4 linked regions of the Homo sapiens genome follow. The protein of the gene in region 3 purifies or fractionates together with the protein of the main gene of each other region. This does not show direct contact. Each region holds a gene or a part of one and is shown on either strand. Other genes may lie near its edges. The genes, in order: TLE3, KCNAB2, MFAP4 and TLE4.

Region 1 (7,023 bases), on a different chromosome or scaffold from region 3:
GGAAATTTGAGGCTCCAGGACTTGAAGTAACCTGCCCCAGGCCACACAGCTAGGAAGTGCCAGAGCTGGGATTTCAATCCTGTTCTGTCTAGTTCCAAAGCCTCCACTCTTCCAGTTACCCCGTTTTCCACCACTGATGTCCGGTGACGTTAGCTCTCATTCCACTGGCCCCCAGCTCATCTGGCTCTGGGGCCTTTGCTGTGATGACCTGCCCTGCCCCTGCTCTGTAAGGCAGGCTTGGAGTTCCTAAGAAATAAGGAGCCTTCCCCAGGGTCCAGCCTCAGGGTGGAAGATGCTGGCAGCTAATGCTGAAGGCATGTATGCATGAGCAAACACTGCCAGGGCTGTGAGCTTAAAAATGGATCCCTCTCTACTCAGAGGGAACCCCATGACTCTGCGGTTTTTTAAATGCATGCATTCTTTATCTCAGGCTTGGAAACAAACATTGAGAAATTATTTGTGAAACGGGGGTGCAGGGAGTTGGGGGGTGCTTGAAGACATAAATCTTTACATTACAGTCTATTAACAGACTTCCTTCAGCGAGACATTCATGTGAACTGAGCTGGGGGCAAAGGTTTTGGGGGTGCTTCCCCCTGCCACCCACCCAGTGAAGGAGCAAGAGGAATGGGAAGAGCCACTCCCTCCCTCCCTCCTGAGGTGGCCACGCCTCCCCTGCCCTCCCCAACTCAGCTGTACTCACCACCGACTTCATTGCAGCAGCAGCAGCTCCAGGCGCAGCACCTCTCCCATGCCACACACGGCCCCCCGGTCCAGTTGCCACCCCACCCGTCAGGTCTCCAGCCTCCAGGAATCCCCCCAGTGACAGGGAGCAGCTCCGGGCTGCTGGCACTGGGCGCCCTGGGCAGCCAGGCCCATCTGACGGTGAAGGATGAGAAGAACCACCATGAACTCGATCACAGAGGTGCGGCTGGGCTGGGGCAGAGGGTGGGGCGGGGCAGGGGTGGGCATGGGCGCTCATAGGCCTCACAGTGAGTGGACCCAGCAAGTGCTGTCGTCCTAAGACCAGGAGTTACCAAGGATTTGGAGTCATCTGTTGATACCTGGTGCAGGGAAGCCAATGCCATCCGCATCCCATGCACCTTTTCCTACTCCTTGGTGTGGACCTGGTATTCTCTGTCCTGAAGACCCTGTCTGTTCATCTGGAGCTCGCTCCCATCTTCCTACAACACCCTTGCCTGTCCTTCAGGGGCCAGCCCCAGTCCAACCCTTCAGGATGCCTTCCTGGTCAGACTAGGGGCTTTTTCAAGTTCCTGTAAGAGTTTAAGAGTTGGGATGCCAAAGTTGAGTCCTTGTTACTGTCGTCTTACATCCTACCCCTGGAAAATGTCTTGTGCTCACCACGATCATTAGTTCCCTAGGACAGGTGCCAAGTTCTTGGGTGTTTTCCTTACATCTATGTCTCACCAATGCAGAAACCTGGGAAAGGTGCACAGTCAGTGCTCAGGTAAAGGTTTGTTAGCTGACTGCCTGTAAGTGGGGGTAGTGCACACCCCAGCAAGAGATCACATAGACTTGGAGTCAGAACTTGTTCTCTGACCCTCTCTGCAGCCCCTACCATGAGGACCCATGAAGCTGCACCGAGCTTGGCCTCAGGAGTGGTTCATTGGATCAGAAAAGAGAAAAGCCTGGCTCCCTGGGAGGCCCTTTTCAAAAATTGGTGCCAAATGCACTCTGCCCTTAGATACGGTATTTACTGGGGCACGTAGCCAACACCTTCTGAGCACTAGGGACCTGGAATGTCACCATCCTGCCTTGGCCCAGGCCACAGGGTGGTAGCCGGTCCAGGGAACTGGAGGCTACATTTTTTTGTCTTACAGTAGGATGGTCCTTTTGGCAGAGGAAGAGGGGCCTCTCCATAGCAGACAGGAGAACTGGGGAGCTAGTGCTTAGCTGGGCACAGTTTCAGAGGCTTCAGCTTTTAGGGGCATCCTGACAAAGAATCACAGAATGGTGTTAATTTCAAAAACAAAATTAAACCACTGTTAAATTCCTTTTTTTTTTTTTTTTTTTAACAATAAAGTTCTTAACTCCCAGGTCCTACTGGTATTTTATATGGCATGATCCTTCTCAAGCTTGTGATCTTAAGACCCCTAGCCTGCTAAAGAGTAAACTTGGTGCCCTCTGGCATGACAGGGAGAACTGGGTCAAAGGCCTACCCTCCCCACCCTGGGGACTGGGCCTCCCTTGCCCACCCTGGGGACTAGAGGGGTGGGGGCAGCATTGGAATTTGGGTGGCAAATTTCCAAACCGAGAAACGCCACCTAATGGCCCTGCCTTGGCTGATCCACGGAGACAGCAATCCAGGCCTTCTGCTCATTTTAAAACCAGTGCACTAGCAAATCACAAAAGCCAGCTGGACTTAGACTGACCTTTTTCCTTTCTTTTTTGTCTTTTTGTTTTGGGGTGCCTGACCTTCCTCCTGTCCTGGCCTTCTTTCCCCAAAGAGAGAGAATCCAGTGCGGTAAGTGTTGGCACTCTGGAACCCGGAGGGGTGTTTGGGTGCTGGGAGGAGGTGGGACTCGGGGCTCCCAGAATCGCGGGCCTGAGACCAGTCAGTCGGTATCCAAAGCTGGCTTCTGGGTTCCCGCTTCTGCTCTGTGGGTTGTAACTAGGGATTTTGTTGTTTGTTTACTCTTGCTGAGCTGGGAGCTTCAGTGCTGATGTCTTAGTCCAGAGCCAGTGGCAGGGTGAGGGGTAGCTACTGTCATAAAATGGGAGCTGCTGTCGTCACCTGTTGAGAGTGACCTTCAGTTGTGGAAGCCCTTCCTCTCTCCAGGCTTTAGGTCTGCCATTTGTCAAATGAAGAGCTTGGGCTAAATGAGCTCTAACTCCGTTTCATATGAGAGGTGATACTCTGAGAGGTCAGCTGACCAGCCCTGGATCTTCCATTGCGAGGGGCTTTGTGGAGTCTCTGGGCTAAACCCAGGGCTAAGGACCCAGGTGTCCCATGTTCAGGGCCAAGGTTTTTACCACCCCCCTGCTAGGATGCCTCCTGTATGATCTTGCATCCTCCTCATTCCCTTCAAACGCCTGCAGTTTCTCCCTGCTCTGGGCTTTCACTCGATTTAAGAAAGTGCTAGCAGGCGAGCATTAAGGCCAGGCCGCCTGCGTGTCTGCCAGCTCTGAGATTTGTTGTAAATCTTTCTGATCACACTGAGGCTCCGAGGTTCTGTTTCAAGTGAATAAGCCTTCTGAATAAGCGCAGTGGAGTCTGGATAAAAAAAATCCTCCAGCGATTAGCAAAGCTATTTTATTCCTCATCGCTGTCCTTGTATCTGGGGCCATCTAATCTGTTAGGATGGCTTTGGTTATTACCTCGTGTTAAGTAGGACTTGGAAGGTCAGGCAGTTAACTAACCATCTAGACAGCAGCTTCCTTGCGCAGCTCTCTCCAATCCAGCCCTCCTTCCCTTCCTGGCCCTCCCCCTACCCAGGCTGACTTTTTAAACCTCCCATTAGCAGTGAGGCTGGCGTCCGTGGCCTCTTGACCCGCCTACATGCTCAGAAATCCAGGACCACATTTGGGCTGAGGAATGGCTAGGTACCTAAGAGAGGAGTCATTGAAGCTGAAAATCCATGTTCACTGCCTCGGTACTGATCCTCTAACAGTGGCATTTTTTCGGAGAGGCAGTTTGCCTAGATAGGCGGAGGCCTGGATTGGACATTTTAAGGCTGAGGTCTGGTCCCAGCTTTATGAGGCCCTGTGTAGTTCTCTTGGCCTCTCTGAGCCTCAGTTTCCTTATCCATACCATGGGAATAATTCCTGCTTGACCAACCTCTCAGCTTTGTTTCGGAAGACCCTTTATAACCTGACTGAGGATCCAGATTACCTGGCTAGCAGGGACCCACTTCAGTGGAATTGGAGGGGGAGTGGGAAGCCCAGCACTCTCTAAAGAGCATGAGTCTTTACCTCATCCTCATCCCTATTGGCTTCTGGCTTTGTGCCCCATCTGTGAAAGTTTTCTGCTAAAAGACCCCCCCTGGGAACCCCCAAGAGCTGGGCTGTTTACCATGCTCGCTGAGGTCCATGCATGGCACACATGGGCCTCAGGAAACTCCAGTGGGAATGAATCAAGATGCTGGGCAGAGGCAGCAGTGGGCAGGGCCGAGGCTGTGCGCATGGCATGTGGCGTGGTGACGGTGTCAGCGGCGGTGTAGACTGAAATAATCAGGCTTTGGAAACCAGGTTGTCAACAGATGAGGCCTACGGCAGGAAGGACAGGGCTGTGTCAGAGTGGGAGGGGGGATGGGGGGACGGGCTGGAAGCTGTCCCAGAGGGGTTAGTCTGGAGTCCAATTAGTGGTAGCTTCATTCATATTTCCTTGCCTAGCCGAAGCAATAAAAAATACTTAGTTTTTTGGCCGCCTGCCAGCCAGAGGCGGGCTGGATCGATGCCGCTAAATGCCTGACATGACTCTCCGGTAGCGGCGAGGGTTTTCAGCCTGACTGCATGAGAAGAAAGAGCTCGCTGTTCTCCCGAGCCGAGCACCGGGTCGCGAGGAGAAACACGAGCAGCCGCACGCCCCCTCCCCTGCCCGCCCGCCTGCAAGGGGCAGCCAGTGCGAGGGGCTGGAAGCATTTCTGCTTAGCACAGGGTGGCCACCACCGTCAGAGGAAATGAAATGAAATGACGGTGATTTTTCTGCCGGCGATTGCAGCAGCTAATTGAATTGTGGCTGTGCGCGCATCGCCACCGCTCCTGCACGGCTGTGGGGAAGGTTGAGCTGCAGTTCCATTATAACCTCCATTTTTTCTTCAAGGCTTGATAACTCTGCCATTTTAATTTGCTTCGGGCAGAAACTTGGCCGGGTAGGGCTGCCCAGAACCCGGCTTAGGAAAGGAAATTAAGTTCTGAGGCTGGTTGCCGCACTATTCCCACCGAATACTGCCCAGCCCCGTTCCCTCCAAGTGGCCCTTGCCCCTGAGCCACGCTTGGCCTCTGGGAAAGTGGAGAAGAGAAGGGAAGCCTCATTCCACTTGCCTTCTGATGCTCTTCTCTTCTGAACAGATGTCCCTCTGGGTCTCCATATGACCTCCTGTGTTGCATGGGGACTGGGACCTGGGATGGCCTGTCCTTTTCTTCCAGCTCCATCATAGCTGGACCATGAGCTCCTGGAGGGCAGGGATTGTATCTCATTCATTCTGCCACTCCTGGCCTGCAGCACCAGGGCTGACCCAGGGCAGCTGCTCGGAAATTGGTGGGTGGGTGAAGGTAAAGTTTGGACTCTTAGAAAGGAGTAAACCTCACCAATATCATAGAGGGGCATTGGTCCTGATATTAGTCTCTGGGCACAGAGGTTTGCTGGCAGGTGCCCTTGCCAGTTGCACTTCCCTCCCTGCTCCCCAGCTCGGTGGTAACAGCCACATGGTGATTTCTGACCACTATCAACCCCTAGGACTACTCCGTCATCTTCCCTCTTCCCAGGCCTCCCATCCCAAAGGCTTCTCATCCTCATTTGCTTTATAGTTGAGGGAGAACTCACGAAATTTTGGGGTTCCCTTTGTGCCACCTTCTGCTAGGGGAGCTTGGGCACATTCACCAACCTCTTGGGGTCTCCACTTGGTGATGGCTACAGAGGCAGTGACTGTCCCTGCCCTTGCTCCTTTCCCTGTCTGTCAGAGGGAAAGGCTTCATGACGTGGCATTTTTGTTTTTTTTACAACCCTGGTGTTTCTCCAGAGTTGCTGACAGCCTCACCGTGGAGGCGGGGGTGTTCACACAGAACGCTTGGCTGCTCATCTCCACTGGGAAGTTGGTGGCTGCCTGACGCCCTCCTTCCCTATCAATCTCCCCATTCCTGTCGGGCTCAGCAAATGAAGTATTGCTCATGGCCCCTGCCTGTCAGCTCAGATCCATCTTACAAGACTCAGTGCAAATTCCACTTATCCCTCCTTTGAGCAAATGAGTGTGGCAAGCGCGAGATGGGTGGTGAATGAGACCCAGGTGACCCTCGCCCTCACAGAGCGTAGTCCCACAGGCCAGAAGGCAGACGGCTTACTGCAGGGTTAATTATTTAATAGCAGTGCAGAGCTGCAAAAGAGAATTGGGGATGCGCCCAGGGCATCTCCCCGGGGACTCAGTCTCAGGGGAGTGGGGAAGGCTTCCCTGGCAAGGCTCTGATGGAGCCACGATCTGCAGGGCAGAGAGGAGTTCAGCTTCTCTTCCCTCCCCTGACCTCCGTGTCACCTGCACTTAGCTGTGTGCGGATGTGTGAATTGTTACACGCAGCAGAAAGTTTTAACCCCGAACCCTCTTTTTCCTTCCAGAATAACTCTGTGTCACCCTCGGAAAGCCTCCGGGCCAGTGAGAAGCACCGGGGCTCTGCGGACTACAGCATGGAAGCCAAGAAGCGGAAGGCGGAGGAGAAGGACAGCTTGAGCCGATACGTACGTCCAAGGCGCCATGGCACCACTGGGGTTTCTGTTGGGTAGGGCAGGGGGTGTCTGCAGGGCCCAAGCTGTGGCCAGGGTCTTCTTGTGGTTGGCAGTGAGTCAGAGAAGCACAGGTTGGCGATAGGGGACCCTATTGAGGAGAGCAGGGTGGGAACAGGGCTAGGGTGAAGTTCACACACGCTATGAGCATGCGAGCCACTGTGGGGCGGAGGTGGATGGGGAGGTCGTCCTAGCCTCCATGGGGTCTCTTCCCACAGACAGGCCAACAACCCCATGCTGCTGTCATGGTGCTGCCGGAATCCCACTTGGCTCTAAGGGGCTGCTCCCAGTGACCCCCAAAATGTGGACCCTATAGTCCTCTCAGTTGGCCTGAGGCATGCACTCACTTGGCCACCCAGTCATGGCTTTTACTAGCCTTTTAATGGGATGCCCCCGGCACGTGAGACCCTAGTGGAAGCATGGCTGTTGTGTTTCCCCTGTGTCAGGCTGTGCAGGGCTGAGAGCTGGGACAGAGGGAAGGGGAGGATATGGTGCAGGGCCTCAGCGGTCTTGCACCCAGCCCTCTTCAGCCACATGGCTGCTGTGTGGCTTTGGACACATTGAGCACCCAA
Region 2 (7,023 bases), on a different chromosome or scaffold from region 3:
TAGTAATTTATCCCCCAGAGCAAAAAAGTCCCCCCAAGCTTCCCAATGGATGGTGATTGGAGAGAACACCGCAGTTGGAGTCCCCACACTGCGACTTCACTTAGCTGCAAAATAGCAGCCGCAGAGGGGAGGGGACAGTTCCACTGCGGCTCTGACTCGGAGGGCGGATCGGCCTGGGTCCAAAGCCAGGACAGGGACTCAGCCTGGAGGTGCCAGGTGCACCTGGCGAGGGGTCTGCAGCCAGAGGCTGAGTTCACCCCCTACTGAGGGGAGGCCTGCCCCCTCGCCCCCCACCCTGGACCCGGCCTCCTCTCACGGCTCACCCGGGTGCCCAGCAGGGCCCATGCTGGCGGCCTCTACAACCCCAGGTTCAGACCCTTCAGACCCCGCCCAGGCCTAACCGGTGGCGCCGCCGCAGACCACCTACCTTCCATCGGGGTGTTGGGGTCCGGGCGGTTGGCAAACACCACATCCACGTACTCCAGCTGCAGTCGCTCCAGGGAAGCTTTCAGACCTGGGGGAGGACCAGGTGGGGGGGCGTCACTGCTGTGGCTCCATCTCCACAGGCACCTGGGCCCATCCATGCCCGGCTCAGGGAACAAGAGATGGAGAAGAGGCCTCTGGCATCTGGAAGCTTCCAGAAGCTGATGGAGGTCGTGAAATGCCACGGCAGAGGTGGGGGCACATCCCACAGGGAGTGGGGGGATCTTCCCTTCAGGAGGACATCGGGGGACCACAGGCCACGTGTCCTTGACTAAATGAAGGGGAAGCCCCTCCTCCCTCAGACAATATACCCTCCTCTGAGGCCACTGTGTATTACAACAGGGAGATGACTTTATCTATCACATGTGGAGGGAGGGCTACACCTGCTGCCCGTCCCATCAAAGGCAATAGTGTCTATGGTCGGGCGTGGTGGCCCATGCCTGTAATCCCAGCACTCTGGGGGGCCAAGGCGGGCGCATCACTTGAGGGCCAGGAGTTTGAGACCAGCCTGGCCAACATAGTGAAACCCTGTGTCTACTAAAAATACAAAAAAAATTAACCAGATGTGGTGGTGGGCACCTGTAATCCCAGCTACTCAGGAGGCTGAGGCAGGAGAATTGCTTGAACCCAGGAGGTGGGGGTTGCAGTGAGCCAAGATCGTGCCGCTGCACTCCAGCCTGGGCAACAAGAGCAAAACTCCATCTCAAAAACAAAAACAATGGCAATAGTGTCTAAAACGCCCAAGCCACCCGCTGGTGCTTAGAGCAGCTCAGGACACACAGCCGGCAGAGTGAAACGCTGGGTTGGGGTGGGGAGGATGGGAGTGGGTGGCTTGCCCCGCCAGGTGATTTTCAATGGAATGATCTATTACCTCGAAGAAAATGAACACGGACAGGAAAGGCATGAAGACAATAAAGATACAGCAAGAGCCAGACACCCCGGTGCCTTGCTCCGGTGCCTGCGAGTGCTGAGCCCCGGGCTGTGTGGCACCTTCTCCTGGGCGCTGCAGGCATCCCAGCCACCCTCGCCGGGTGCGCTCTTACTGTCCCTATTGCACAGATACTGTGGCAGAGGCATGGGGCAGGGTGCCCCTGCTGAAGACCCACTCAGCCAGTGTGGGGCCAAACCTGGATTGAAACCCAGGCTGGTCTGTGGTCTGTGCTCAGCCACCGGGCTGCCCTCGTTCTCTGCAGCGTCCCGCTGTGCTACCTGGGTGGAAGGAGAAGGTCAGGCCAGAGCACCGGGTGCCCCGGGATTGGGCCCTCAGTGGGTTAACTGGGGGGGTCGGGCCCTGTGCTGCCATCACTTTGGCCTCCGAGGATGATCCCACAGGTATGGGGGCCCTGAGGTGCCCGAGCGCGTCCTCACCTTCGATTATGTGCTTCCTGGACAGGCCCCGCTCCGTCTCCGCCCTGGAAAACAGGCCGACCGCGTGTGATGTCACCAGCGGTTTTGGCACCCTGGCCCCTCCCAAAAAACGTTTACGATGCAATGTTAGACGCAAAAACAGGGTCAGCAAATGCCGTGTGGAGTCGGATTCCACTTTGGGGGTAGGGACCCGAGGCTACAGGGCTGAACTCCCAGAGGCCCAGGGAGAGGCCTGGTCACAGGGCTCAGAGGGGAGGGGGGCAGCAGCAGGGGGTGGGGGGCTTTGATTTTCAACCTAACCCGTCTGTTTGATTTGGACTTATTATTATTATTATTATTATTATTATTTTTTAAATTAAGAACACATCAGGCTGGGCACAGTGGCTCACGCCTGTAATCCCAGCACTTTGGGAGGCTAAGGCAGGAGGATCACTTGAGCCCAGGAGTTCAAGACCAGCCTGGGCAACATAGTGAGACCCCATATCTTAAAAAAGGACAAATTAATGCCAGGCGTGGTGGCTCACGCCTGCAATCCTAGTGCTTTGGGAAGCTGAGGTGGGCAGATTACTTGAACTCAGGAGTTTGAGACCAGGCTGGACAACATGATGAAACCCCATCTCTACAAAATACAAAAATAAAAATATAAATAAAAATAAAAAAATTAGCTGGGCATGGTGGCATGTGCCTGTAGAACCAGCTACTTGAGGCAGGAAGGTCACTTGAACCCAGGAGGTTGAGGCTGCAGTGAGCTGGGACTACGCCACTGTACTCCAGCCTGGGTGACAAAGTGAGACCCTGTCTCAAAAAAAAAAAAAAAAAGAGAGAGAGAGAAAAAGGACAAATTAGTCAGGCATGGTGGCTCATCCCTGTAGGCTGAGGTGGGAGGCTCGCTCGAGCCCAGGAGTTTGAAGCTACAGTGAGCTGTGATTGTGGCACTGCGCTCCAACCTGGATTACAAAGCGAGACCCTGTCTCAAAAAAATAAAAAATAAAAACAAAATAAAAATAAAAAAAAGAATGAATGAATGAATCGTAGTTATAATTCCTATGAGCCCAAGTGTGTCCAGCCCAGAAACTATGGAGCTAGACACTTGGAGACCTGCAGGGGTGACAGGCGGCCCAGGGAATTTGGAGTGCTTTGGGGGTTTGGGCAGTTCACAAATTTTCTGTTTTCTCTATAATTTTTATGATGTTACCATAGTGACCAGGAAAAAATAATCCATGTGAGTAAAAAGGAAAGTTAAGCGAGGTTTTTGTAAAAGGCAAACTCGGCCACAGCTTCTTTTCTGGATTTGACGTCCCTTAACAGGGACAGGCACCAGGCATAGCTGATGGCTGCAGAAACACCAGCTCTGCCCCTGCTGGGGACAGGAAATGGCACTGGGCCGGGGCCTGTCCAGGACAGACCCCGACCACTCTCCCTTCTCAAGGAGGACTGTCCTCCCGCCACCCCAGGAGCCTTCTAGGTCAGGGGTCTCTGGGGAGCACGGGGCCGTGGCTGCTGGGCCGGGGCTGGAAGCATCGCCAGCTGTTGCACCTACTTTCCGCCCCAGAAGATCTTGGTGGTGATGACGAGGCTGGACCGCCTGTGGAACAGAAGAGAAAGAAGGGGTGTGATAAGCCCGGCCCCTGGGGGGTCCTCCTTCATCCCCGACGTCCTCATCTCTCACACAGAGGTCCTGAAAGCCCTCCCACCCAGGAGCCTGGGGCATGAAATGGGCACTTCTCCATCATATGATGTGTACCACGTGCCCAGCCGGGGTGCGTGGGCTCCTCATGGAGCCAGGAGGCAGCCACCGAGGCAGTAACTGTGAGTCAGGCAGTGGGAGTTGGACAGTGGGGGGCCTAGTGTGACCGGAGTCCGGAGGAGATGCCTTCCGCCCAGGATGTGGGAGGGGGGCCTGGCTCAGGGACTATGAGGGGTGCATGGATTTGATCCAGGTAGAGGAAGTGGCAAGAGCCAAGGCTGGAGGAGGCCGGGTGTGGGCCAGGGGGCAGGGGCGGGCTCTGGGGGGATCTGGCAGGAGTTGAGGATGGAAAGATGTAGGTGGGAGGCAGGCAGGGAAGCTCTCTGCAACGTTCCCTACAGAATGTGACACGTGTTGCAGAAAATCTGTGTGGGACGGCCTGGTCGGGGTAACTTGAGGGGCACCAAGGGAGGGAGGGGAGGCATAAGGACGGCCTGGTCGGGGTAACTTGGGGGGCACCAAAGGAGGGAGGGGAGGCATAGGGAGCCCAAGTGTGGCCAGGCCAGTGGGGTTCTGGGTTTGAGTAGCTGAGGCAGAGAATTCTGAGGATTTGGGCTTGAGCAGCGCAAAGGGAAGTAATTCGTTCTTCTGCTCTAAGTCCACACGAGACAAATGCCCATACCAGTGGCTTTGTCCTGGTGGGATGGGGGATAATGATGGCCCCTCCCAGCCACGTTTGACCTTGACCCCTCCCAGAGGAGGGAGTACTTCCCACCCAGGGGGTGACAATGACCTCCTGGTGCCCCATGGCTGAGCTTCTTTCCCACCCGGGTCCCGGGCTGCTCAGGGAAGCAGCTCACGAGGCTGGAGTAGGAGGCCTCCTCTGCCCCGAAGCATCGGCCACAGAGCTCTGGCAGAGGCAGCGTCACCTCCAGGAAGGGGGATCACCCCACACCACCTCCATGCACATTCGCCAAAGACGTGATCAGGGGATTTGCTAATACGTGCAATTTCGTTTAATTACAGGGTGAGGAGGAATTTGTTTTGGGATCAGAGTTGCCAAAAAACAAATTTGATGGGACAAGAGGAAGGGGTGTCAGGAATCCATGGGGGAGGGGGCGGGGGCTCCCCTTGGCACTGGGATTCTGAGTGGCATTTCGAGGGGAGGGAGGAGGGAGGCCCAACTTTATAACTGCTTCTGATGTTTCTGAAAATAAAGACGCATTTATTAAGGAACAGGGCCCCGGGGCTTGTCAGCACCTTGAGATAAAGCTGTGTCCAGGGGTCTGGGGAGCCTCAAAATGTAGGCAAGTGCTCAGCCCAGTTGGTCCCAAGGTGGGTGAGGACCTTGGCCTGGGAAGGGCCCATAGGCTCCTGGGAGAGAAGGGTGGATGGCCCCCGATCTGCGACCTTTGGGCTCCATCACACCCGGGGACCGCTCCCCGGTCTGTGCTGGAGGGGACCACTTCCCAGAGGAGTGTGACACGTCCCGCCCTGAGCTGGGTGGGTGATTTACAGACTTGGGGCCACTGACCCTCAGGATAGCCCTGCCGGAACGGTCCCACACACACCCTCTTACAGATGGGAACAGTGAGCTCCGGAGAGGCTGAGACGCCGCGAAGATCCTGTGGACAAGGTGCAGGGTGGGATCCAACCCCAGGCCCCCAAGCTCTCTGAGCCACTCCCTTCTCTGGCCCCCTGGCTCCCCTGACCCTAAGTGCTCCAGCCAAAGAAGTGGAAGTGCTTTGCACCCACATCTTCTGTAGCAGCACGCCTTTGCTGTACCCAGGCCCGTTCTCACGCCAAGCTCTTTTTGGCCTGACACTTTGCAAGCAGGGACCCTGGTGCTCTGGGTCTCTGTGGATGAGTTGGGACAGAGGCGGAGTGGGCAGGCTAGGGTGGGGGTGGACAGTGTATTCGGCCTCCCTTCAACTTCTTTCTCAAGCAGAGTCACCTCCTACTCTTGGAGAACTGAATTTTCCTCTCCACTTCCCAGCAAGAAAGATGTGGGGACTTGCGGGCCTTACGACACTGCACGACAGGCCGACGAGGCTGACCCTGGGATAGTTCGCCCGCACCCACCCCAGGGACAGGCCGCAGAGAGCAGGGCCGTTACCTCCATCCTTTCTTCTTAATGATGTTTCCCAGTACCACTTCAGCCCTGCAAAACAAGACACCGAGCTCTCATCACAGCCAAACAGAAAAATCAAACCCAGACCCACTGTGGCCACTGGCCACTTGGTTCCCTCTGTGAAAATGTCACTGGGGCCAGAGAGCCAGGCTGTTAACACCCGCCTTGGCTCAGTAGCTCATTCCACAGACAGGGTTGGCCCGAGGGAGTGGGAGCAGCTGTGTTATTGCCCCCCACTAGGATGGCTGTGGCATGTTCCCCTGCAGACACGTGTCTAAGCAGTGGCGGCCCCAGCTCTCACACAGAAGGAAGGAGCTGCTGTCGAGCATCCCATTTCCTAGTCAGCTGAAAATTCACCAGGGAAAATGCCTGGCAACATTAGGTGGGCAAAATTTCCAGAGAAGTATCTTGTTTTTTTTTTTTTGAAATGGAGTCTCGCTCTATCAATGGAATGTAGTGGCGAGATCTCGGCTCTCTGCAACCTCTGCCTCCTGGGTTCAAGCAGTTCTCCTGCCTCAGCCTCCCAAGTAGCTGGGACTACAGGCACCTGCCACCACGCCCGGCTAATTTTTGTATTTTTAGTAGAGACGGGGTTTCACTATGTTGGCCAGGCTGGTCTCGAACTCCTCATCTCGAGTGATCCGCCCACTGTGGCCTCCCAAAGTGCTGGGATTCCAGGCGTGAGCCACCGCGCCGGGACAAGTATCTTTTTTCAAAGGTAAATTATTCATCAAGTCACGCTCTGTTTTGAGAGACAATCAACATGTACTCAGGGTCAAGGGCTGGATTTCCAGCAGATCTGTGCATGCTTGTGTATATGTGTGTGTATACATGTGTGCATGTGTGTGGGTGCACGTGTCCCTCTCATTTCCTGCACTGAACGGCAGAGTCAGATGCTAGGCGGACCACTGTCTGTCCTGTTTGGCATCACTGGGTCCTGCACCAAACCCAGGCCAGCTGGGGGCATGGGCGGCCGTCCCAGCCTTGCCTGGCACTGCAGCACTGGATTAACTTTGAAGAACTTTCTGCTTGTAGCAAAATGTTTCTGAGCAAAACAACAGACGGAGAATGATCCATACTCTGTGCTACATTCCAATTATAAAAGCGCCTGAGTCATCCACTCAGAAATAATGGGCTCTGATTTGCAAGCTGTTTAGCATGCGCTCTGAATGCTCCTCATTTATGGTCAAGACACACAGAAAATTCACTCAGCCCTAGGCCTCTTCCTTTTATTCCTTGGTCCCTGATTTGGGGATCAGGAAAGGAGGAGGAAGAGAGAAAAGCTAGCAGCGATCTCTGGGGCAGAGGAGCAGCAGACAGTGAGTTATCTAAGCCTGTGGCTTGTGGCTCTGGC
Region 3 (7,430 bases):
CCCACACCAGGCACAGAGGAGGATGTGGGTGGATCAGGGAACGCAGAGAACAACCAGCACAGGCCTAACCCAGGGGCGGAAGCCATACCAACTTGAGCAAATGTCTTACCAAAATGACATCGAGGAAGCACAGGGGGTCATCTGTTTTTACTGAGCCATCTGGGTTTGACAATATTACAGCATACATTACAATGACTATTACAGAGGGTATTTAGTGGAGACTTTTTTGTACACTTGCAGCCACTTCTCCTCCTAGTCTCACACTCGTTTTCTGTATTATAGTCAGGGATGCCTCTCTCCCTGAATCAGTCCAGTTTCCATCAAGTAACACTCAGGTTAGGACAATTTGAGTAGCATTTAATAAAAGGACTATTTGCTGAGGTGTAAGCAGGAGATGGCCCCCTATCTCTGGGCTGGTAACACCAGGGCTGTCAACACCCCTAGACCTGAAGCGGGCAGAGGAGGAAGGAGTCACCCACAGTGAGTCAGGAGGCTGTATGGAGATGGCTACCTGGCAGGACTTGAGACTGTTGGCTGAGAAACAAAACCAGTGTGTGGGGACTCTACAAGGAGGGGAATGAATATTCCTACTTCATTCTCCTTCCCGCTGAATCCTGATAAGCTCCTCATTGGCTGGACCCAATCAGAAACCAGAGGGTGAGGCTGGCCTTCCGGGGCCCAGGGCAGTAGGGAGAAAGGTGGGGAGGCAAATGAAAGGTGTCCAACTGCACTCCCCTTGCCAAGGGATGCATAAAATTACCCAAGCAAGGCCAATGGGATGGACCCTCCTCACTCCTGGAATCTGGCAGACAGACAAAGCCATAGCCATGTGCATTGAGCAGCATCAACCCAACATTGTCCCACCACAGGACCCCCACTGAGGGCCTGCTTTCCAGAGCCCAGGGCAGCCTCAGCTCCCACCCACCCCTAGTCTAGACTCCCAGCAAAGCCTCCCAACAAAGTCAGAGTTAGTGTCTGTTGTTGGCAATGACAGAATCTAGACACAAACATCTTTATGCATGTGAGTTGGGGGTCTCTTTCAAAAACATCAGCAGGCAGAGCAAACTGATCACTGGGAGGGCTGAGAACCAAGCTCAGGGCTTTGCAGCCTAAGCCTAAGCCAGTGTCACTCAGCACTGTGCTTGCCAAGCCACCACCAACCACCCAGAGAAACTAGGACCCAGACAGCACTGGGGTCACCATCGCCCCAGGAATGGATTCTTCCTGCTTCTGCTTCTCAAATCACTTTCTCCCAAAATGAAGCCCAGGACCGTGCATTTTATCAGCTAAACCAAGGCCATGTGCCTTCAATCAAACTGCAAGGAACCCTGGAAATGTGAACACCCAGCATTCTAGTTAGGAGAGGAACACCCCAAATGTGGGAAGAGGTTTCCCATGCTGGGCAGCCAACAAGTAATGTCCCCCAGCTGTATCTGTAGCCTCTTCAACATGTCAGAGTATTTCCTCCAGACAACACCTTAGAAGGATTACCGACTCTGGGCATGTTATTACCAAATTTCTTTACCACAAAAGTTAAACTAATTTCCAGCCACATCCAGTGAACACAGTGCCTGCTTTGCTGCACCCACACACATTATTGCATTTTTTAAGTAAAAACTAATTGGCAAAATGTAATTGATACCTCGTATCTTAATTCTCTCTTTTCTAGGGGGAGAAGGAGTTTCTATGTTTGCTCATTAGTGGTATTCTCCAAAAGTCTTCAATACTTGACTTTGGACCATTTTAGTATTTGTTTTGATAACTGATTTTTTTTCATTATTTTCCCTTTTATAGACTTGTGTTAAAATTAGCTGGCATTTGCTGAAAGAAGAGATCAGGATTAGATTCAGCTGTGTGTAACAGAAAAAAAAACAACAGACACTTAAAATACATAGAAGTTTCTTTCTCTCCTGCATAAAAAAGGCCTAGAGGAGGGCAGTCCAGGGCTGTTTTTGTACCGACTCCACAAAGTCGTGAGAGGCTTTGCCAGTTCCTCCTCTGCCATTCCCTGATGAGGCCTCATCTTCCTCATCCCCACTGTCCAAGGTGGCAGCTAGAGCTCCAGCCATCACATCCAGCAGGACAGAGGGCAGGATGAAGAGGGACAAGCCACCTACCTTTACAACATACCTGTTGGCATCTTGTTGGCCAAAATTCAGATGTGTGACCTCACCTAGCTACAAGGGAGGCTGGACAATGAGCCCAGATAAAAATCAGGATCTTACTACTGAGGACTAAGGGAAGAACGAGTATTGAGAGCCAGCCAACTGTCTCTTCCACAGGCAAGCATACAAGCTGTGTTGAAGACAACCCATTCATATGAGAATCATGATGTTTATGATGACGATGACGATAGCTAATATTTACTAAATAGCTGCCATTTGTAGGCACTGTTTTAGGAACTTGATATGTATTACTTAATCCTTACCACACCCCTATGAAGTAGATACTATGACTATCCTCATTTTACAGAGGAGGAAACCAAGGCACAGAGAGACTAGGTAATTTTTGCAAGGTCACCCAGCTAACAGGCAACAGAATCTAGATTTGAACTGAGGTAGCCTGACACAAGACACAACTATGAATAGAGGCAATCACAGAACCAAGTCAGGGAGGCCAACTGGGGCTTTGCCAAGGGGCTTATCTATTGACTCAGGAGTGGAGAGATGGGACCTAAGCCAGAGCTGCCTCATCACTTTGCCTTTGAATATTTCATCTGTTCATCCATTCAACACAAATGTCCTTTTGTAATACACCTTACATTTGCAATTCACTGTCCAAAACCTGTGCTTGCCACTCCTTGTGGGGCAGATACTGTATCCTCAGCAGCCAGCATAGCCTATAGCACACAGCGCTCAAAAGATATCTGTGAGCCAGGTGTGCTGGCCCTGTAGTCCCAGCTTCTTGGGAGACTAAGGTGGGAAGAACATTTGAGGCCAGTTCAAGACCAGCCTGGGCAACATAGGGAGACCCCCCCCATCTCTACAAAAAAATTAAAAAATTAGCTGGGTGTGGTGGCACACCTGTAGTCCTAGCTCCTTAGGAGGCTGAGGTGGGAGGATCACTTGAGCCCAGGAGCTTGAGGCTGCAGTGAGCTATGATTGCACTTGGGCAACAGGGCAAGGCCCTGACTCTAGTATCTTATCTATATATAGATATAAATACGTAAGTGACTGTGCATGTACATATCAAGCCTACTCTGTGCCAGGCTCTGTGATGGGCACTGAGCATGCAGAAATGAGACACACACCCTGCTCACTGGCCCTTATGGCCAACAAAAGGAGGCAGATGAGCGGGCACCACAAGGAGCAGCACAAAAGAGTGGGGACCTCCATGGTGAAAAGTCTGGAGTGGCTGCACTGTAGTTTATGAGTCACAGCAATAAGGGACAAGGTCCTCAAGGTAGGCCAGAGACAGACTTGAAATTCCTTTCATGTCCAAGGTGAGAAACCTAGCCTCAGCCCTGAGGCAATAGGGAGCCATGAGGCTTTAAGCAGGGTGACATAATCTGAGAGGCCATCTAGAACAACTCTCCTGGTAGTGTGCCAAGGATAGGAGGAGAGAGCCCAGAAGTAGGGAGATTCAGATGAATCTGGGAGGTGTGGGAGCCAAAGTGAAGGGTTTGGAAGAAGAAAGGAGGGGTGGAGTGAGGAGAAACAAAAGAGGTCCCATACCTATTGCATGTGAGCCAGATGGGCCAGGGAACTGTGGGAGGGGAAAAGAGTGGGCCTGAGGTGGCCAGAGTGAGGGGGGCTGGGGAGGGGGACTGGAGAGGGGCCCTGGCCTGAGCTGGGGCAGACAGAGCAGTTGGACGCCAGCAGCCTTGTGCTCATGGCTCAGAAATGTCCCAGGCCTGCCAAGAAACTGCTGCCTCTGTCCCCCCACCAGCCCCAGCCAGGCTCCCACATCAGGAGCTCTGAAACTGTCCCCTCAGCCTTCTGCTCCCCCAGAGCAGGCCTCCCGTCCCCAGAAGCCAGGCATATGACACCCCCACTCTCCCTCAGCCCTCCCCCTCAATGGCTGATGAAACACAGGCCAGGGAAGGAGGGGAAAGAATAAACAGACATCTGCAGGGGGGCCCATCAGGAAGTAGGGGGCAGGCTGCGGCGGGCTGGGGCTGCCTGGGGGCGCCAGGGGGCCCACAGGTCTAGCAGGGTGGGTGGCAGATGGCGGATAGCGGATGGAGTGGGATCCAGGGAACAGTTGGAGCCAGCAGGGAGTTAACGTCTGCAGTACTTTGCCCGACAGGACTAATGAGACACAGGTGGTCCCCTGGCTCCAGCCCCACCTCCCAGCCCCCTGATAGTGTAAACTGATGCTGGTTGTCTGGGGTGGGGAGAGGGGGGTTCTGCAGCTACGGGAAGGGGGGCGGGGCTGGGGCGGCTGGCGGGGGCCCAGCGCATAACTCTGGGCGGTTGCAGTCTGGGGCCGCAGACACCCAGCCACTCTGAGCAGAACTGACAGCATGAAGGTACGGGGCCCAGGGTCGGGGGACTCATAGCATGGGGGAACTGAGCCCACTCCAGAGGCCCCTGGCCACAGAGGGCACTATGAAGGCACAAGGAGTTCTCTTGAAACTCGTAAGCTATGAGGGTACACAGCGTCCCAGAGAGTGGGGTTACTTGGCGGGCGGGGTGGGGGGGCAGGGAAGAGGGGCCAAATAGCAGGAGAGGGATTCAGGCAAGGGCAGTATGTGCATGCATGGTGGGGGCAAATGCAAAGAGAACAGGGGATCTCTGGAGCTGGGAAGGGGCTGTGCTGACCCTGTCTGCCCATCGCCAGGCACTCCTGGCCCTGCCGCTGCTGCTGCTTCTCTCCACGCCCCCGTGTGCCCCCCAGGTCTCCGGGATCCGAGGAGATGGTAAGCAGCCCCACACTCACAGACGCGGCCTGGCCCACAGGTTGTGCAAGAAGAGGCTGGACTGTCAGAACAGACTGTCAGGGCCGAGCCCCAGCTCTGCAGGACTCAGGTTCCTCCTTTACAAAATGGGGCAGATGGATGACATAAGCATTGCTCATCTCCCTTGAAGAAATCTTCCATGACTCCTTGTGTCAAAGTCCCCCAGCCCCAGGGACTGAGGCAAACCTTGGGGTGCTGAGGTGTCAGTGATGCCATAGTCCCACTCTCCTCACTGTCCCCATGTCCCTACCCCCAGCTCTGGAGAGGTTTTGCCTTCAGCAACCCCTGGACTGTGACGACATCTATGCCCAGGGCTACCAGTCAGACGGCGTGTACCTCATCTACCCCTCGGGCCCCAGTGTGCCTGTGCCCGTCTTCTGTGACATGACCACCGAGGGCGGGAAGTGGACGGTGAGTGGGAGGAGGGAACAGAGGCCAGAGCTGGTTCTAATCCCAGCCCTGTGACCCTGGGCTTCACATATGCGAACCTCAGTTTCTTCATCTTTAAAATGGGGATAATGATACCCACAGCACAGCTTCTGAGCAGCTGCCAACGCTTAATTCTAAGTGCCTGAGGTAGGTGTTTGTTTGTTTGTTTTGAGGCGGAGCCTCACTCTGTCATCCAGGCTTGAGTGCAGTGGCTCCATCTCAGCTCACTGCTGGAAACTCCACCTCCCAGGTTCAAAAGATTCTCCTGCCTCAGGCTCCCGAGTAGCTGGGATTACAGGCATGTGCCACCATGCCCAGCTAATTTTTTTATTTTTAGTAGAGATGAGGTTTCACCATGTTGGCCAAGCTGGCCTTGAACTCCTGACCTCAGGTGATCCGCCCGCCTCAGCCTCCCAAAGTGCTGAGATAACAGGCGTGAGCCACCGCGCCCAGCTGAGGTAGGTTAATGCACATAAGCCTCACAATAATCCTGGGAAGTAGTGAGGAACTAAAGCCCAGAGAGGTGAAGTAACTTGCCCAGATCCCACAGCTAGGCACTCGAACTCTAGAACGCCTCCCTCTTAGCCTCTTTCCTGCCTCTATACGAAACTGGGTATGAAGAGCCCAGGTGGGTGCTGGCAACTGCTCCACAGGGGGCCTGGTGCCAATGTGGACGTTGTTTTAGCAACCCCACTCCCACCACCCTCCCCACCCCCAACCCAGTCCTTTAACAAACTGGCCACAGCATCACAGGGTCCATGCTTGAGGTGGGCAGGGCAGGACCAGAACCTTGCCCATTGGACCCTTGATGATCCAGTCTCATCTTCTCTGCTCCAGGTTTTCCAGAAGAGATTCAATGGCTCAGTAAGTTTCTTCCGCGGCTGGAATGACTACAAGCTGGGCTTCGGCCGTGCTGATGGAGAGTACTGGCTGGGTAAGGCAGGGACCAGGTGGGCTGAGGGGCTGCCCCAGGGCCAGGTCCTTGTTGACCAGCTGCCCCTCCTCCCCAGGGCTGCAGAACATGCACCTCCTGACACTGAAGCAGAAGTATGAGCTGCGAGTGGACTTGGAGGACTTTGAGAACAACACGGCCTATGCCAAGTACGCTGACTTCTCCATCTCCCCGAACGCGGTCAGCGCAGAGGAGGATGGCTACACCCTCTTTGTGGCAGGCTTTGAGGATGGCGGGGCAGGTATAACCCGCTGTTAGCTTTGGGAGGGGCTGTGAGGGGAAAGAAGGCAGGGCTGGCCCTGCCCAGTCAGCCCCAACCTCCTTCAGGCCCCTCCTTCAACCCTTCTGGATCTGGAAGGGCCACAGCTGGCTCCAAACAAGCTCAAACCAGCTTGGGCCTCAGCCCTGGGGAGCAGCCATCCTGGCCCTGCTCCAGGCAACTCTGTGGTGGAGCAGCTGTTTCTCTTCATTGCAGAAGCACATCAACCCAACATCTGGCTCAGGGAGGGTGCCCCCATCCCGCCAGGCTGCCACGTGATATCTCTCACAGTCGTCATTGTCACCCTCTCCCGGCCAGCTCGGGGCTCAGTTCCCTGCCTCAGCAGCCCCAACCCTTCTCTCCTCTGCCAGGTGACTCCCTGTCCTACCACAGTGGCCAGAAGTTCTCTACCTTCGACCGGGACCAGGACCTCTTTGTGCAGAACTGCGCAGCTCTCTCCTCAGGAGCCTTCTGGTTCCGCAGCTGCCACTTTGCCAACCTCAATGGCTTCTACCTAGGTGGCTCCCACCTCTCTTATGCCAATGGCATCAACTGGGCCCAGTGGAAGGGCTTCTACTACTCCCTCAAACGCACTGAGATGAAAATCCGCCGGGCCTGAAGGGCTGGCCCCCTCAGGCACCTTTCCTCCCCTGGACACCCATGGTCTCCATGAGTGCTCCCTCTGCTGCCCCTGATGCATGCTTCTGCTGATTCCCGAGCACCAACTCCTTACAAGGGGGCCTTGTGGCTCTCAGCCATGCCACATCCCTGTCACACACCCAGGGCATCCATTCCTAAGCCAGACCCGGCTCCCCTACACCTGAAGTTACACTGCCAGCAGTTCCCCAGGCCTCTTCCGAGAGGCACATGGTTCTAGCCTGGACCTGGCT
Region 4 (7,023 bases), on a different chromosome or scaffold from region 3:
TCAAGGAACTCTTTTGTTTCTTTGTTAACTTTTCTATTAAAGAAAATCAAGGCCCAAGCTGAAGAACCTCTTCCATTTCTTTTCCTCCTTTCCTTTTCTTTACCTTTTTACTGTTTAACGTCATTGTTAAAACCATGTTCTAATTGCTGGTATATGTCATTTCATCTTGTTAGAATGAAAAATCTACTACTCCCGTCTCAAAGTCCAATACCCCTACTCCACGAACTGATGCGCCCACCCCAGGCAGTAACTCTACTCCCGGATTGAGGCCTGTACCTGGAAAACCACCAGGAGTTGACCCTTTGGGTTAGTAAGAAAAAAGTTTTTTCTATATTTTTATGCTCGTTTTTAAGAATTTAAAGCAATTTAAGGAGTACAGTACATTAAAAGTGCTAATGACCAGCATTGAATGGCTGTTAGACAAAGTTACTTAACCTGAACCGAGCACCTGGGACCAACCTTGTCTGGCACATGGTAAGTGTTCAATAGAACAAAGTGAATGAGTGAATTCTGAAGGCTTGAATGACTTTTGAGAATATTAAAATAAGCTCATTTGAACCATAGATTCTATTTTGTGACATGTTTACAAATGTCTTCACTGTTGTTTCCTGTGTTCTTCATTTTTCTTCCATCCATTTTGGTTTGCAGCCTCAAGCCTAAGGACCCCAATGGCAGTACCTTGTCCATATCCAACTCCATTTGGGATTGTGCCCCATGCTGGAATGAACGGAGAGCTGACCAGCCCCGGAGCGGCCTACGCTGGGCTCCACAACATCTCCCCTCAGATGAGCGCAGCTGCTGCCGCCGCCGCTGCTGCTGCTGCCTATGGGAGATCACCAGTGGTGCGTTTGTGAGCTTCACAAATAATATTTTAGCACACGGAGGATTGTCATGCTTGATTGATTGCGACAGGGTCTCGCTCTGTCACCCAGCCTGGAGTGCAGTGGCATGATCTTGGCTCACTGCAGCCTCTGCCTCCTGGGCTTAAGCGATCCTCCCACCTCAGCCTCTCAAGTAGCTCGAAAAAACAGCATGCGCCACCATGCCCAGCTAATTTTTAAAATTTTCTGTAGAGGCAGGGTTTCACCATGTTGCCCAGTCTGGTCTCGAACTCCTGGCCTCATATGATCTGCCTGCCACAGCCTCCCAAATTGCTAGGATTACAAGCATGAGTCACCATGCCTGGCCTATCTATTTTTTAATGTAATTTATATAATCTAAGGTATTTAGAGATCTGTGGGTATTTATAAGTTAAGCTACATGTGATTATAATCTTGAGGTCCATTTTCTTTTGTAAGGTGAAGAAGTTTCTTTTTTATTTTATATGTCTTTTTAAAAGAATACTAATTTTAAATTTTCCAAAATGATACTAATTTTGGAAACTTCAAACCTACAGAATTAGATCACATAGTATAATGAATGTAATGACTCTTTGGTTCTACCATGAGCTTCAATAATCATTAGTATAATTTTTTAATCTGTGTTCCACCCCCAAGTATGTTACCATTAAATCCTAAACATTGGTTATCATTTCACCAATAAATACTTCTGTATATATCTCTAAAACCTTATTTTTAAAGGATCTATTCTCCCAGGTTTTAGAATAGATTTTGAGAAGGATAAAACAAGTCAAATGTAACTGTGCTTATTTCTGTTGTTTGCTTGGGAAAAATTCTAGGTGGGATTTGATCCACACCATCACATGCGTGTGCCAGCAATACCTCCAAACCTGACAGGCATTCCAGGAGGAAAACCGTGAGTACCTTTTTGCCTCTGTGCTCATTGTGTGTCAAACTCAGGTCCCTTGCTGGCCCCGTAGACTTAGAATACCACTAGACAGTGTTGGGGGAGTTCCCATGACTTGTATTTTTTTACCTTGCAAGGTATTTTTCATTTTCTCTTAGCACAAGAAGAGAAGTAATGAAGTGGGGTTTTGCATTGTAAAATTTTGAGCTTTAATATGTAAATGCAAATTGCAGAGGCATCTCCAGTAGTCAGGTCTTCTCTACATCTGTTGCAGATTTCAAGGCAATTCTTTGTTCCAAAAGTCTGATTATTATGTGCAAACCTGAATGTTCAAAATTTGAATATGTTGGGAAAAGACATGCCAAACCTCAAAGGCTGAAAGGAAATAAGGGCACTCTTATGCTTAGTTCTGTTTTCAGAAAAGGTGACTTGCTTAGTTGGCTTCTTATACCGTGCTCTGGGCATCTGGAGCCTCTGTATTCACAGATTCCTTGAGTTAGGAAAGACAAAACACAACACACCAGTTGTTCTAGCCTTCTCTGAACGGATCTCATTCCAAATACTTTATTTTAATCTAATGCACCTTTTTATTACTACCTAATCACAGTTGTCTCTGCTAATTGGCTTCATCTTCCCAGAAACAAAGATTTTACTATAAAGTAGCACTGGCTGTTTCTTTAAAATCCCAGCTGGCTGCTTTCTCTCGCTTCTCCTTTGGGAAGCCTCCCCCGCAGATCCTCCTTGCCTTGTTAGTCACCTGTGTGTGTGCATTTTTCTCATCACTCTTTCTGTGGGCATCCCCTCTGTCACTACACATGCCGTGTATGTGCTGCCTCCCCAGTCTCCAGGGCTATCCAGACCTGACCCTCAGTAGCAGCTCAAGGCGCCTTCTCCCAGAGGCTTCCCTGGTAGCTTGCCTGCCTTGAGGTATTTTGTCCTTACTGTCCTTCTTCCTGCAAAACTTTCTGTGGCTTAGTGTCTCATTTAGTTATCTAAGATGTCATTATGTCAGAGCGTTCTGCCCTGACAACCCTATTATCCCTCTTTCCCTTCCTCCCTATTCTTTCCTCTTCTACTACCTTTTTAATGCTTTTTTATAGCCATTATCTGCCTCTCCCTCTTGACTATAAGTTCCATGAAAACAGAACAGAACTTTCTGCTATTCAGTTATAGAAGCAGTCTCACTGCCTAGAATGGTACCTGGTTCATAGTGGTGCTCACGGTATGGATTTATTCAGGGAATGGATATGTGCTGATTTCTTTCTTCTCGGACCTCCCATTGCTTGTTTATTCACTCCCACACACTCGGGCACTTAGTTTTCACCCTGGTGTTAATTGCGTGCCCTCTTCTCCCCACATCCCTTCAGTGTTGCCTAACCTAGACCCTTTCTTTACTTTCCATCTGAGGAATCCAAATCTCAGTTCTTCCTTTTGTAGCATATTAATACTTCTCTACAGACTCTATCCTAACCTTCCTTTGTTGTATCAAGCACAGTGCTGGCTCCACAGCCAAGTTGCTTGGTAAATATTTGGCTGATTAATAGGGGAGAAAAGACAAATTAGAGTTCCTCAAGAGTTGAAGGTATAAATATCAATTACCATAAAATTCTGTGTACCTGTGTGTGTTTTGCAAATAGTTGTTGACTAACAAGTCTTATTGACCAAGAAACTTTGATGTATTTGAAGGTGAAAGTTGGGTCTATTTCAAGCAATGCTAAATAACAAGGTTATACAATTAATCAAATAATGACTCAGATACCTACAAGTTCCATATGAACTTGTGGGGAAAGTGGAAGGGTTCCTTTAGGGAAGAAGTACTATCCCTTTTTTTTGGTTACTTCTTAGGTAACCAACAGTTGTACCCAGAGCTACAGCATAACCACTAGAGCAAATGAGATGATGCTTCTTGCCTCAGCTGCTGCTTCGAGGGGCAAGGGGTGTAAGTGTCTTTAAGGAAACACCTTGGCTAAGGGATTTGGACCAGTTAAACCACTGTGGAATCACAGCTGCTCTGACTCAGATGGTGCTTCTGAGTCTTGGGCTGACTTCCCTTCATCAGTTTTAACTTTCGATGTTATAAAATGTTTAAATGTTTAAGATCCTTTAGGGTGGGTTAATGGATTGGAGGATTGTTGAGAATTTTTGTTTATGAGAGTGACAGAGTCACATCTACTGCAGTTGGCAAATGACACTTTACCAGGAAAATGACACTACTAAAAAGCATGTGGTGCAGTCAACAGAGTATGGTTTTGGGAGTGTGACAGATCCAAGTTTGAATTTAGACTCTGCCAGTTGAACCACTGAGAAGAGTGGCTTTATGCACAATTTCTTTGTGAGCTTCAATCAGCTCATTCATGAATCAGGGATGGCCCCTCCTCAACAAGAAGGATGTGAAGATAGGAAGTAAGATAATATGTTGTGTGTTCATTCAGTGCCACATTTGTTACATGGTGGCTGTTTAGTCAACCCCAGCATTATTTCCCTTTCAGCTTTGTCCCAGCATATTATTCATTTTTCAGCTACTTATGTAGTAGGAGGTACATTGTGTTTTAGGGGCAGAAGTGACCCAAGAAGATGGGTCATTGGTGTGTCTTTATGTAACAGAGCATGAAGACGTATAAAGTTACATTCACTTATATGCATACAGAGATAATATACTTTTATTATAGATTTTTACAGCAGAAATGAATATAACAGTTATGTGGCTCTCCAGATCATAAGATACTGAATTGTGCAATGTTGTCTTGTGCATATTTTTCAAGACAAAACTTTTTTAAGTGTGCTAGAAAATAAAATAAAAAATCACCTAAAGTCTTCCTCCACCATACATACCCACAATGTAACTACCTTTCTCCAGAAAGACTTATAAAAGTTATGTGTCTCTGTTCTAATTATTTCACACAATGAATTGCTAGATATGATCAGAAATTATAATTAAATGCATGTTCCAAATTAATAAAATGGTGTTTATTGTATAATTCACATTGAATCCTCTTGTCTGCTCAGGTGAATTAGCAGAGGTTCTACTTCATATGTAGTTGGAATAACAGCATAGTTTAATTTCAACATAAGCCAAAAATGGCCCTTCTCCTTCACCTGCTACTCAAATGAGACTTCTATGGCTAGTGTATAACTATTTGATTAACATCACGGTACTAATTGTATGAGATGTGACATGTGAACACAGCAAAAATAAAAGATCTCACGTTAGTGGATTATAGGCTGCTCACAATTCAGAAATCTGACTCTTTTGCATTGATTTATTTTTATAAAGCAAGATTTTCAAATGAGAATAATGCCTGATACATAGTAAAAACCTTCAACGAGTATTTGTTGGCTAACTCACTGGTCTGTATGCTACTTAGAACAGAATTTTCTATCGTATTTCAATGTAAAATACAATAACCAGACCTCTCATTGTGACCTCAAGGTCGAAGCCCATCTTGTGACACATTGGAAATGTGGAGAAGGTACTGTGCGCGTGAGAGATGAGCACAGCATAACAGAACTGGGCCTCAGAGAGGAGAATGAGGGGAAGGTGGGAAAGCCAGTGACCTTCTTTAAATATGCTGGGTCTTTGTCAAGATGATAATCCATATATAACAAGTTTGACACACATGTTTTTAAAAAAGCAAATTGCATGTGTCTGGATTGTTTAAAGTGTAGTTATGTCAGAGAGTCCAAGCCTAGCATTTTCTTCAACTGTCTCTTATTCTCATCGCCATGTTTGTTGGAGAGCCACTCTGCTCGTAGCAGCTTAACCTGTGGTGTGTGTGTTCGTGTTGAGAGGAGGTCAGGTCACTCTATTTCTCTGACTCCCTGCACCCTCTCCCTCCAGCCCTGTATTTCTAGTTATTTGTTGGGCATCTTAGCTAGGGATCTTGGGTGTATGTTACTTGCACCACAAATTCATTATATTCAGAAAGTACTTTTGTAAATTAGGTCCTCTTCCCAGTTTGCCCTTTTTTTGTTAACTACAAGTACCATGTTTCTTTTTTCCTGAGCTCAGAAACTCAGTTACTCTAGCTCCTCCTCAGATCTCGTCAATTTAGTCCTACAGGATTTTATATCCATTGTACCTTCTAACTTGTCATCCTTGCCCTTGCCTGGTTCAGGACCCCCAGTACCTCTTACTTAAATTGTTGGAATAATTGTTGTTGTTTGTTGTTGTTGTTGTTGTTGTTGTTGTTTGAGAGAGAGTCTCGGTCTGTCACCCACGCTGGAGTGTAGTGGCTCAATCTCAGCTCACTGCAACCTCTGCCTCCTGGGTTCAAATGATTCACATGCCTCGGCCTCCCAAGTAGCTGGGATTACAGGCACATGCGCCACCACACCTGGCTAATTTTTATGTATTTTTAGTAGACATGAGGTTTCACTGACTGGTCTCCGAACTCCTGACCTCAAGTGATCCATTCCCCTCGGCCTCCCAAAGTGCTGGGATTACAGGCCTGAGCTACCGCGCCCAACAGGAATAATTGTTTTTAATTCCTCCTGTCCATCCTACTCCTTGCTACCAAGTTTATTTTATGAATAGCTTTGCCCAGTAATGGCACACTCCCTTTATCCCTCAAAAATCTCTTCAGTCAATTCTGGGAAGGTCTCAGGCTGGCATTCTGGTCCTTCCCTTTTATAGCATTACATTGATTTTAATTATATAGAGATATAGATCTGGTATGTTTTTTCAGACTATGCTTGGCCAGTTCCTCCATCCACCTACTGTGTAGTTATTATTGAATGAATTCCTGGATTAAAACCAATTCAAGGATTTCCCAGCTCATTTTACCTCATCCTTTTGGAACTTTTGCTCTCTGCTATTCTTGCTATCTGGAATATTTTTTCCATCTTTCTCTTTACTCGATGGTATCTTTTCATTCTTTAAAAACCCATCTCTATTACCATGTCTGTCTCTCATCCAACATAAACTTTCTTTCCTTTTCAAAACACTTCAGAATACTTTCCATTAGAATGTGACCTGATATTGTCATTTCTGTACTTTTCTCTCATCATGCTAACTAGATTGTTAGTCACTTGTGGGCAAGACCAGGTGCATTACCTAGTTTTGTATCCTTAGCATGACGTTTGCGTCAGAGTATATGGATGGGAGGTACTTAACACATTGTGCATTAAATTAGTTAGAAACAGAGTAGCCCTTTGCGCCTCGGTTTCTCTGATTCCTAGCAATGTTGACTTCCCTCATACCTTCCAGGAGTATTTGCTAGTTACAGTCAAAGAGTTTATCGAAATCTGATAATAAGTATGTACTAGAGCTTTATTATT

Evidence for each region.
Region 1: the proteins of MFAP4 (region 3) and TLE3 purify together in Homo sapiens (co-immunoprecipitation; 2 studies listed by BioGRID and IntAct, with this or other methods). This does not show direct contact.
Region 2: the proteins of MFAP4 (region 3) and KCNAB2 purify together in Homo sapiens (co-immunoprecipitation; 2 studies listed by BioGRID and IntAct, with this or other methods). This does not show direct contact.
Region 4: the proteins of MFAP4 (region 3) and TLE4 purify together in Homo sapiens (co-immunoprecipitation; 2 studies listed by BioGRID and IntAct, with this or other methods). This does not show direct contact.

Annotation. Positions count from the first base shown.
Region 1 is NC_000015.10:70,059,913-70,066,935, reverse strand, and holds part of TLE3 (transducin-like enhancer protein 3), read left to right. Parts: intron 1-717; coding exon 718-922; intron 923-2,465; coding exon 2,466-2,482; intron 2,483-6,286; coding exon 6,287-6,406; intron 6,407-7,023. UniProt on the Homo sapiens protein: Transcriptional corepressor that binds to a number of transcription factors. Inhibits the transcriptional activation mediated by CTNNB1 and TCF family members in Wnt signaling.
Region 2 is NC_000001.11:6,083,880-6,090,902, reverse strand, and holds part of KCNAB2 (voltage-gated potassium channel subunit beta-2), read right to left. Parts: intron 5,700-7,023; coding exon 5,655-5,699; intron 5,649-5,654; exon of another isoform or gene 5,073-5,648; intron 4,746-5,072; exon of another isoform or gene 4,532-4,745; intron 3,437-4,531; coding exon 3,392-3,436; intron 1,896-3,391; coding exon 1,852-1,895; intron 515-1,851; coding exon 428-514; intron 1-427.
Region 3 is NC_000017.11:19,384,191-19,391,620, reverse strand, and holds the start of MFAP4 (microfibril-associated glycoprotein 4 isoform 2 precursor), read left to right. Parts: upstream 1-4,430; 5' UTR 4,431-4,465; coding exon 4,466-4,471; exon of another isoform or gene 4,472-4,502; coding exon of another isoform or gene 4,503-4,580; intron 4,581-4,782; coding exon 4,783-4,861; intron 4,862-5,156; coding exon 5,157-5,311; intron 5,312-6,166; coding exon 6,167-6,263; intron 6,264-6,339; coding exon 6,340-6,522; intron 6,523-6,911; coding exon 6,912-7,159; 3' UTR 7,160-7,430. UniProt on the Homo sapiens protein: Could be involved in calcium-dependent cell adhesion or intercellular interactions. May contribute to the elastic fiber assembly and/or maintenance.
Region 4 is NC_000009.12:79,707,945-79,714,967, forward strand, and holds part of TLE4 (transducin-like enhancer protein 4), read left to right. Parts: intron 1-173; coding exon 174-306; intron 307-648; coding exon 649-842; intron 843-1,678; coding exon 1,679-1,755; intron 1,756-7,023. UniProt on the Homo sapiens protein: Transcriptional corepressor that binds to a number of transcription factors. Inhibits the transcriptional activation mediated by PAX5, and by CTNNB1 and TCF family members in Wnt signaling.